2 linked regions of the Homo sapiens genome follow. The protein of the gene in region 2 purifies or fractionates together with the protein of the main gene of each other region. This does not show direct contact. Each region holds a gene or a part of one and is shown on either strand. Other genes may lie near its edges.

Region 1 (3,651 bases), on a different chromosome or scaffold from region 2:
GATATCCTTTATGATAAATCACCTCGAGGATCTTCACAGTGAGGTGACATGGGGGATGCAGAAGCCAGGTCCTCAGCCATGGAAGGTCTGGGGAAGGGGCACTGCTGTCCTGATTGGGACGATGGAGGCCTGGAGGTGTCTGGATGGTAGAAGTCTTTGAGGCACAGAAAGCTGCCTTAGCAGGGAGGTGTAAGGGTTCCTGGGAGGAAGGTGGAGAGCATGATCCTGAGGAACAGGGAGTCTTGCATCACGGCAATGGAGGGACTCTGATTCTAAGGGATAAGGATGCCTGAGGTTTTTCCAGAGAGCTATGGGGTTCCATGGGCAGGCTCTGAGCCTGTGCCCGCCACTAACCCCACTGAAGCCCGTCCCTTCAGGCTGATGCTGGTGGAGGAGGAGCTGCGCCGGGACCACCCCGCCATGGCTGAGCCGCTGCCAGAACCCAAGAAGAGGCTGCTCGACGCTCAGGTGGAAATTACAATGTCATTTATCTTCTCCGTGTCCCATCCCCATCCATCCCACTGTCTTTCGTGCACTCACTACACCAGCCACCTAGCCCCATCACCATCTGTCTCTCATAGTCTGCTGTTTGTCCACTGGCTGCTCCTGGCAGCCCCCTAGTGACCCCATCTTCATCCCATCGTCTGTGCCTTTGTCACTCCTGGCAGCGTCAGCCCAACTCCTGTGCCTTCCCATCCAGTCTTCCCACTCCTCTCTGCATCTCAGGACCTTCTCTACCAGAACCTTGGTCTTTCTGCCCCTAGACCCCACCTAGTTCCAAGAACCCCTGCCCCTTCTTTGCTCACTCCTATTCAAGCCACGTTGTTCAGCTTCCTCTGCGCTCTTGGGCCAGAGGGCTAGAAGCTGCCGTTTTCTGGAATAGAGCACAGGGCAGTATGATCTGTAGTTTCTCCAGGCCCTGGCCGGTACCCTGAAAACTTGGGGACCCATCACCTCTGTTCTCTTGGCTCCCTAATTTTCCTGTCTCCTTGGCAGCTCCTGCATAGCTTCCTCTTCCTGACTCTTCAGATCTTGAAGGCCTTCCATCCTGTAACCTCCCTTTGCCCTCAGTATTTAAGTCCAGCCTCCCTCTGGCCTCCCTCCCACTCTGGCCCTCAGACCTTCCCAGCTGCCTGCTGCCCAGCCTCTCTTCTCACAAGCCAGCTTCTAGGACCTCCCTTCTGCACCCTTACCCCTTGCTTTCCCAAAATTCTGCTCATTTTCCTACCCATACTCCTCTTTGCTCTGACTGCTAGGCTCCCCCCGCCTGCCATCCCCCCACCAAGGCTCCTGACCCCATGACCCCACTCTCTCCCACTGCAGCTCCTCATCAGGTAATTCTCCTGGTTCCGCTTTGGCCACGGGCGGAGGACACAGGGGGAGGTGACTCCGGACCACTGCAGGTTGGTCGTGAAGCCCACTCCCTCCAACACCTCCGGAGCCTCTCCCCTCTCACTGCTGCCCTCCACACCCAGAGAACCTCCACAGACTCCAGCCCTCCGACACCTGCACAGATCCATCTCCCAAGACACCACCCAAAGAGAGCATTTGCTGCTGCTTCCCAGAACTGTCCAACAATACCTTAGCAACACCAAGAGTTGGGCCCTAGATGGGCCCAGCACATTCACAGGTCACACCCACTTCCCTGCAAAACCCACCCCCTCCCAGCCTCCTCCTGACTCTAAGCCCTCCTCTTCCTCTACCTCTCCAGTGTATGTCTGTCACCCCCCATTTCACCAGAGCGTCCTTAGGGGCTGGGGGTGGGTTTGTTAATGGGGTGGAGGCAATGATGGGTTGGAGGATCTTGGCTATAGGGGCTGTGCTGACTGCAGCAGGTAGGTTGGGTTTCCCTCTTCCTTCCCTAATCTTGGTTCTCTACCCTCCTTTCCACTCCTCACCTGATTCTCTCTCTTCCTCCTCCTTATATCTGTGAGGCAGAAGGCATCTGAAGCTCATATTAGCCCCCATTGGGTGGGAATTAGGAGTGGGTAGTTAACTCAGGGAGACTTGAGATACCCTGGAAAAAATGCTATTGAGATGTCCTGACATTAGGCAGGGTGGATGGAACAAGAAGGAGCAAGAAAGGAACCTCAGGCAGATGTTAGGACATGGACTTGATCATGTGGCCTGGGAGTTTAGAAATGGGGAGAGACATCCTCCTAGATCAGATCGTGGGCTCAGTAGGCATGTTGATTCCCAGGGAGAGGTGCCAGGAACAGCATGGTAAAGAATGTACTCTTCACAGCTCACATCCCCAGGTTGCTGATGCCACTCACTCCCCCTCTCCTGCCATCGAGTGGCCTTGCCGGACACATCACCCTACCTAAAAAGCCAGTAAATGAGAACCTGTCAGCTATAGCCATCATTTCTGAGATGCGATTTTCTTTGGGATTGAGCTGCAGTGGGCAGTGGCTCCTTACACTGTAATTTTAATTCTCTGCCTGCCCAGCCTCTCTGTCAAAGTAGCTGGTGATCTATAAAGATGCTAAAAGGCACCAGGGGACTTTGCCATTTAAAGGACTCCTGCAGTGAATTCTTTTGTAAAATGAATAATGGCACCCTAATTTATCCACTTTCTAAATTTGGGTCCATGGGGGTGTCCAGGGCATGCTTATGTGCTGTCACCAGCAGACAAACAGAGGGAATGGAATCTGGGGGTTCCTTCCCTGCTCTCCCGCCATACTCAGGATACCCTACCATAAGTGATTTCCTCTCACTGACTTGCAGAAAATGTGTGAGATACCCAGCAAGCTAAGAAGGCAGTTTTGCTGGGTATCTCATACCCAAGGCTGGGGTTTGGGTGATCTGAGAGGTTAGCTCCTTGATCCTAGGATGGAAGGGAGAGCTTATATAGAAGCTTTTACTTGGAAGGTTTTGTATCCTAAGGTCAGACATAGCTATATTACCAAGCCTAAATGCCATGTGGCCCAGGAAATAATTTGGACATTTGTTCTAAACCACTTGTGGTAGGTATTGGTCTCTCTGCAACTCAGCCATTAATTAGAAATTAGTTTTGAGCCTGAATTTTAAAAAGCCAAGTGTTGCCCCCAGCCCACACACACACACACGGACATGTACAGTACAAACCCCAGATAATTACAACAGCCAAAGAGAGAAGGAAGTGAATTTCCCAACCAGAAGCGTAGGGAAATTCAGATGGCTTTCTTTTCTCCCAGCAGAGGAACAGAAGGCGGAGCTAAGGGCAGGAACCAGGAGTTGGTCAAGGAGCTATAGGAGGTGATGAGAGTAGAACCAGGGGTAGGAGCTGGTCTGGTACCCCTCACCCTCTAATTGGGAGCCCAGGGAGAAGGACTGAAAAGAAGATGGGAGTGGAAAAGAATAAAGCCAGTTTCTGCTTCCCAGGGATGCAGAGATTGGGGCATGCTGTGTCTGCAGAAGCTCCTAGTCATTTCCGCCATAATTGTGAGAGAGAGGGGCAGCCCTCCCACAAGATTTTTCCCTTCCCATATCACTTCCCTGAATCCCCTTCCTTTCCCCCCAGTACAGTTAAACCTCTCTCTAATTTGGAATGTTATATTTGAGAAGATGGCCACTGTGAATAAGTGACAAACGGAATGACAGTGTCTATTTAATGAAATGCATGTCTTCAAAATATATACAGAACTCGATGAACAAGGCTTTTTCCACTCC
Region 2 (3,751 bases):
CGCCAGCTCCCCGTTGGCTCCCTCGTCTGCATCCCGGGCCTGCACACGGGCCACAACCGTGTCCTTTGCGGTGCGCCCAGGCACCGCCACTTCTAGGGAGCCATTGGCTGGCGCCGGGTGCACCAGGACTGGCGCATGGTCGTTCTGGTCCAGCACGCGCACTTGCACTAGGGCGCTGCTGGAAAGCTGAGGGGAGCCGCCGTCGCTAGCTTGGATGCGAACGTCGAGTTGGCGCAGCGTCTCATAGTCGAAGCTGCGCAGCGCGTAGATGGCTCCGGTAGCTGGGTCCACCGAGACATAAGTGGACACGGCGCCCCCGGCGCGGCCCACCTCGGCCTCCAGCAGCCGGTAGGTGACCTGGCCGTTGCGGCCCAGGTCCCGGTCGCGGGCGGCCACCGTGGCCAGGTAGGCGCCTGGCGGGTTGTTCTCGCGCACCGACACCTCATAGACCGGCCGCGTGAAGAGCGGCGCGTTGTCGTTCTCGTCGCCCACACGCACCGTGTAGGGCCGCACTGTGCGCAGCGGGGGCGCGCCGCGATCCTCGGCCACCAGCGTCAAGTTGTACTCGGCGATGCGTTCGCGGTCCAGCGACGCCGCGGTCACCACCAGGTAGCTGCCCGCGTAGGCCGGCTGCAGCCGGAAGTGCTCGTGCCCATAGAGGGCGCAGCGCACTTGCCCGTTGGCGCCCGAGTCCCTGTCCGAGGTGCTGACCAGGGCCACCAGGCTCTCGCGCGCCGCCCCCTCCGGCACCAGCGAAGTGGCACCAGCCTCCGGCGTCCCGGCTCCCGCCGGCGAGCTAGCGTCCGCTCCCCCGAGTGCAGCGGCGGCGGCGGCAGCGGCGAAGGGTGAGGTTGCCGGCGCGCCTGGGGCGGCCAGCGGGGTGATGGCGATGTCGGGTGCGTTGTCATTGACGTCTCGGATGCGCACGATGACCTTGCAGGTGGCAGCGCGGGGCCCGGGTCCGCGGTCCTGCGCCCGCACGTCCAGCTCGTAGGTGTCCTGACGCTCGTAGTCCACGGGCCCGGCCAGGGTGAGGCGGCCTGATCGCGGGTCAAGCCGAAAGAGGCGGCGCGCCTCCGGCGGGGTGCGGGCGCCAAATGCGAACACCACGTCGCCGTTAGGTCCCTCGTCGGGGTCGGCTGCGTCCAGGTCGAGAAGCAGGGAGCCCACGGGCGCGTCTTCCGCCAGCTCCACTTCGGCCACGGCGCCCTGCGGGAAGGCCGGGCTGTGGTCATTCGCATCCAGGACGCGCACGCTGAGGGCAGCCGTGGCGGAGCGCGGCGGGCGGCCGCCGTCCTGGGCCACCAGCTCCAGGCTGTAGGCGGCCTGGCTCTCGCGGTCCAGCTCCTGCAGCAGCACCAGGTCTGCGCACTGAGCGCCGTCCGCTCGCGTCTGCAGCTCCACGCGAAAGGGGCTGTGCGGCTCGGCCAGGCGCACGGTCTGCAGCCCGTTGGCGCCCACGTCCTCGTCCACCGGCACCTCCAAGGGGATGCGCGTGCCCACTGCCGCACCCTCGGACACCTCTACCGGGATCTGGGCCCTGGGGAAGCGCGGCGCGTGGTCGTTGACGTCCCTCACCTCTACCTCCACGTGCACCAGCCGGAACTGCTCCTGCGAGAAGCTGACCACATCGAAGGCCAGCACGCACTGCGGGGCCTGGCCACACAGCCGCTCGCGGTCCAGGCCGGCGTCCCCGACGGTCAGCTGCCCGTCGCCTTCGCGCACCCGGAGCAGAGAGCTGTTGAATTGCTTCATCAGGCGGAAGCTTGTGTCACCCGATACTTTCATATGCAGGTCCTCGGCCAGGGTCCCGATGACCGTGCCGGGGGCATCCTCCTCGAAGGTGCTGTATCGGACTGTTTTGCTCTGGGCCACTGAGAGCACCCAGCAGAGGCTGAAGAGCTGCAAGGGGAAAAGGCAGGGGCTGCCCCAACGCCTCACAGGACTCATGCCTCCAGCCTCAAGTGCGATCCGAAAGGCTAAGGAAGTCTTCTCTGGTTTCCAGGTCGGGCGTCAGTCTCAGGCTCTCGGAATCACGCTCTTTGCGAGCCCTGTGCGGGAGAAGTCTGCGGGTAGCAGCTCCGAGCCTCCAGCGGGCTCTGAGGACGCGCGGACCCGCCCTCACTCTGCGCCTCTCCGTCTCTTACAGAAGCTGCGCCGCCTCGCGCCGCCTTTGCCTTTATAGCCGCCGATATGCTAATCACCCGAGCCGGGTAGCCAATGGCCGCCTCCCCCTCGCGTCGCCCCTCCGCCTGCCTCTGACAATCCCTTTAATGTGGAAAGGCTTAGAGGGGAAAACAAGAAAGGAAAATTAGGGAATCTTTCTTTTGTTTAACTCCTTTTGCTTTTTCCCCCTTTTCTTGTCAGCACCCTGCATGTAGAGGAGTTGGCACAGGGCTCCAGGAGTAAAAGGAGCGGATGGTTTTGTTAATTGTCGCCTGCCTCCCTCCGTGCCGCGGCTAGAACTAAGTGCGAACACGCTGGGGTTTCACCCCAGTGGCTCCTGATTCCGCCTTCCCCCAGCCCCTGCCAACACACACACTCTGCATTTTGCACCTCTGACGCTTCCAAACCCTTGCAGCCCCCTACCCACAGACTTGCTCTGCTGAATGAGGCTCTGCTTTCCTTCTCTCCTAGCTACGGTGCCTGGAATAGCCTCTCGATTAAGAAGCCTGAAGGATAAGGGAAAATTGATTTTATTCAAATTTGTGTACTCAATTGTGTTTTGCTCGTGTGAGCCCCAGTGATCAGAGCTGCCACTTCCCTTTCAGAAAAGAGCCCCGCGATATGTTAGTATGCACGTCACTGTCCAAGTGGCCTTCTTAAGCCCTGGGAGCTAGCAGGCAAGGAAAAAAAAGTTCCAAATAGGATTTAGCATAAGCTTGAGGAGATTTGGAAAGGTTTCAAAGATCAGACTGTATCAAAGGCTTATGAAGCCCTCGTTAGCAGTGGAAATAGAATGGTGTGGCAGGCGATCCCATTGGAGGCCCCAATGTCTGTATTATTTCACTGTGACAAGCTAAGGGGAGAGAAAGTTGAACAGTTTCCACAGCGGAGTTGGACTAACTTGAATATAATGAGCAAACGCCACATGTATCCATTATGTTCCTCTATTCATCCCCAATCACTGCCATAACTCTCCGGCTAAACGGTGATGGGCGCTGAATTCCACACAATACCCGGCTCGTATTAAAGTGCATTTAGAGAACTTTTTCCTCCTGATGCCTTGTTCCGCCTATTTAGAGGATTTTCTTTCTGTTCTAATAGGGCCACTCTGGGAAGCAACACTCGTCCGGTTCCAGAAGAACAAAATCACAGCGTGACGTTGAAACCTGGCAGGAACGTGGGGGGAACTTAACCATCTGCTTAGGAAAGTGTGGAGCTTCGGCACTGCCAAAATCTGGGCTGGGCGGATCCTGGGGCTGGCCGGGCGCTGCGCTGCCCCACAGATAGCCCCCTCCCATCCCTGACGGCCAGGGAGATGGAGCTCGGATCTGCAACAAGACGGATTCTTAATGATTCTTACTGAAGGGCTTTATTGAGCAGGCTATGCAAATACACACGAAGGAGGAAAGGTAAAAAACAAAAGCCACTCACTGGAAGAAATTTTTCTTTTTAGGCGATAGGTTTGGTAAGTAGATTGAATTCAGTAAACATTCTTCAGAATCCCGATTTTGGTCCTGCTGTCAGCGTCCTATCCATGTTTTCCTTTCCCTCAAACTCGAGGGAGTGTGTTTTGGGTTTTTTTTCA

Evidence for each region. Proteins that work in one complex are often made in the same cells at the same time.
Region 1: the proteins of PCDH8 (region 2) and SYNGAP1 purify together in Homo sapiens (co-immunoprecipitation; one large-scale study listed by IntAct). This does not show direct contact.

What each region holds. Positions count from the first base shown.
Region 1 is NC_000006.12:33,447,466-33,451,116, forward strand, and holds part of SYNGAP1 (ras/Rap GTPase-activating protein SynGAP), read left to right. Parts: intron 1-364; coding exon of another isoform or gene 365-377; coding exon 378-468; coding exon of another isoform or gene 469-471; intron 472-1,323; coding exon of another isoform or gene 1,324-1,338; exon of another isoform or gene 1,339-3,651. UniProt on the Homo sapiens protein: Major constituent of the PSD essential for postsynaptic signaling. Inhibitory regulator of the Ras-cAMP pathway.
Region 2 is NC_000013.11:52,846,487-52,850,237, forward strand, and holds the start of PCDH8 (protocadherin-8 isoform 1 precursor), read right to left. Parts: upstream 2,155-3,751; 5' UTR 1,951-2,154; coding exon 1-1,950.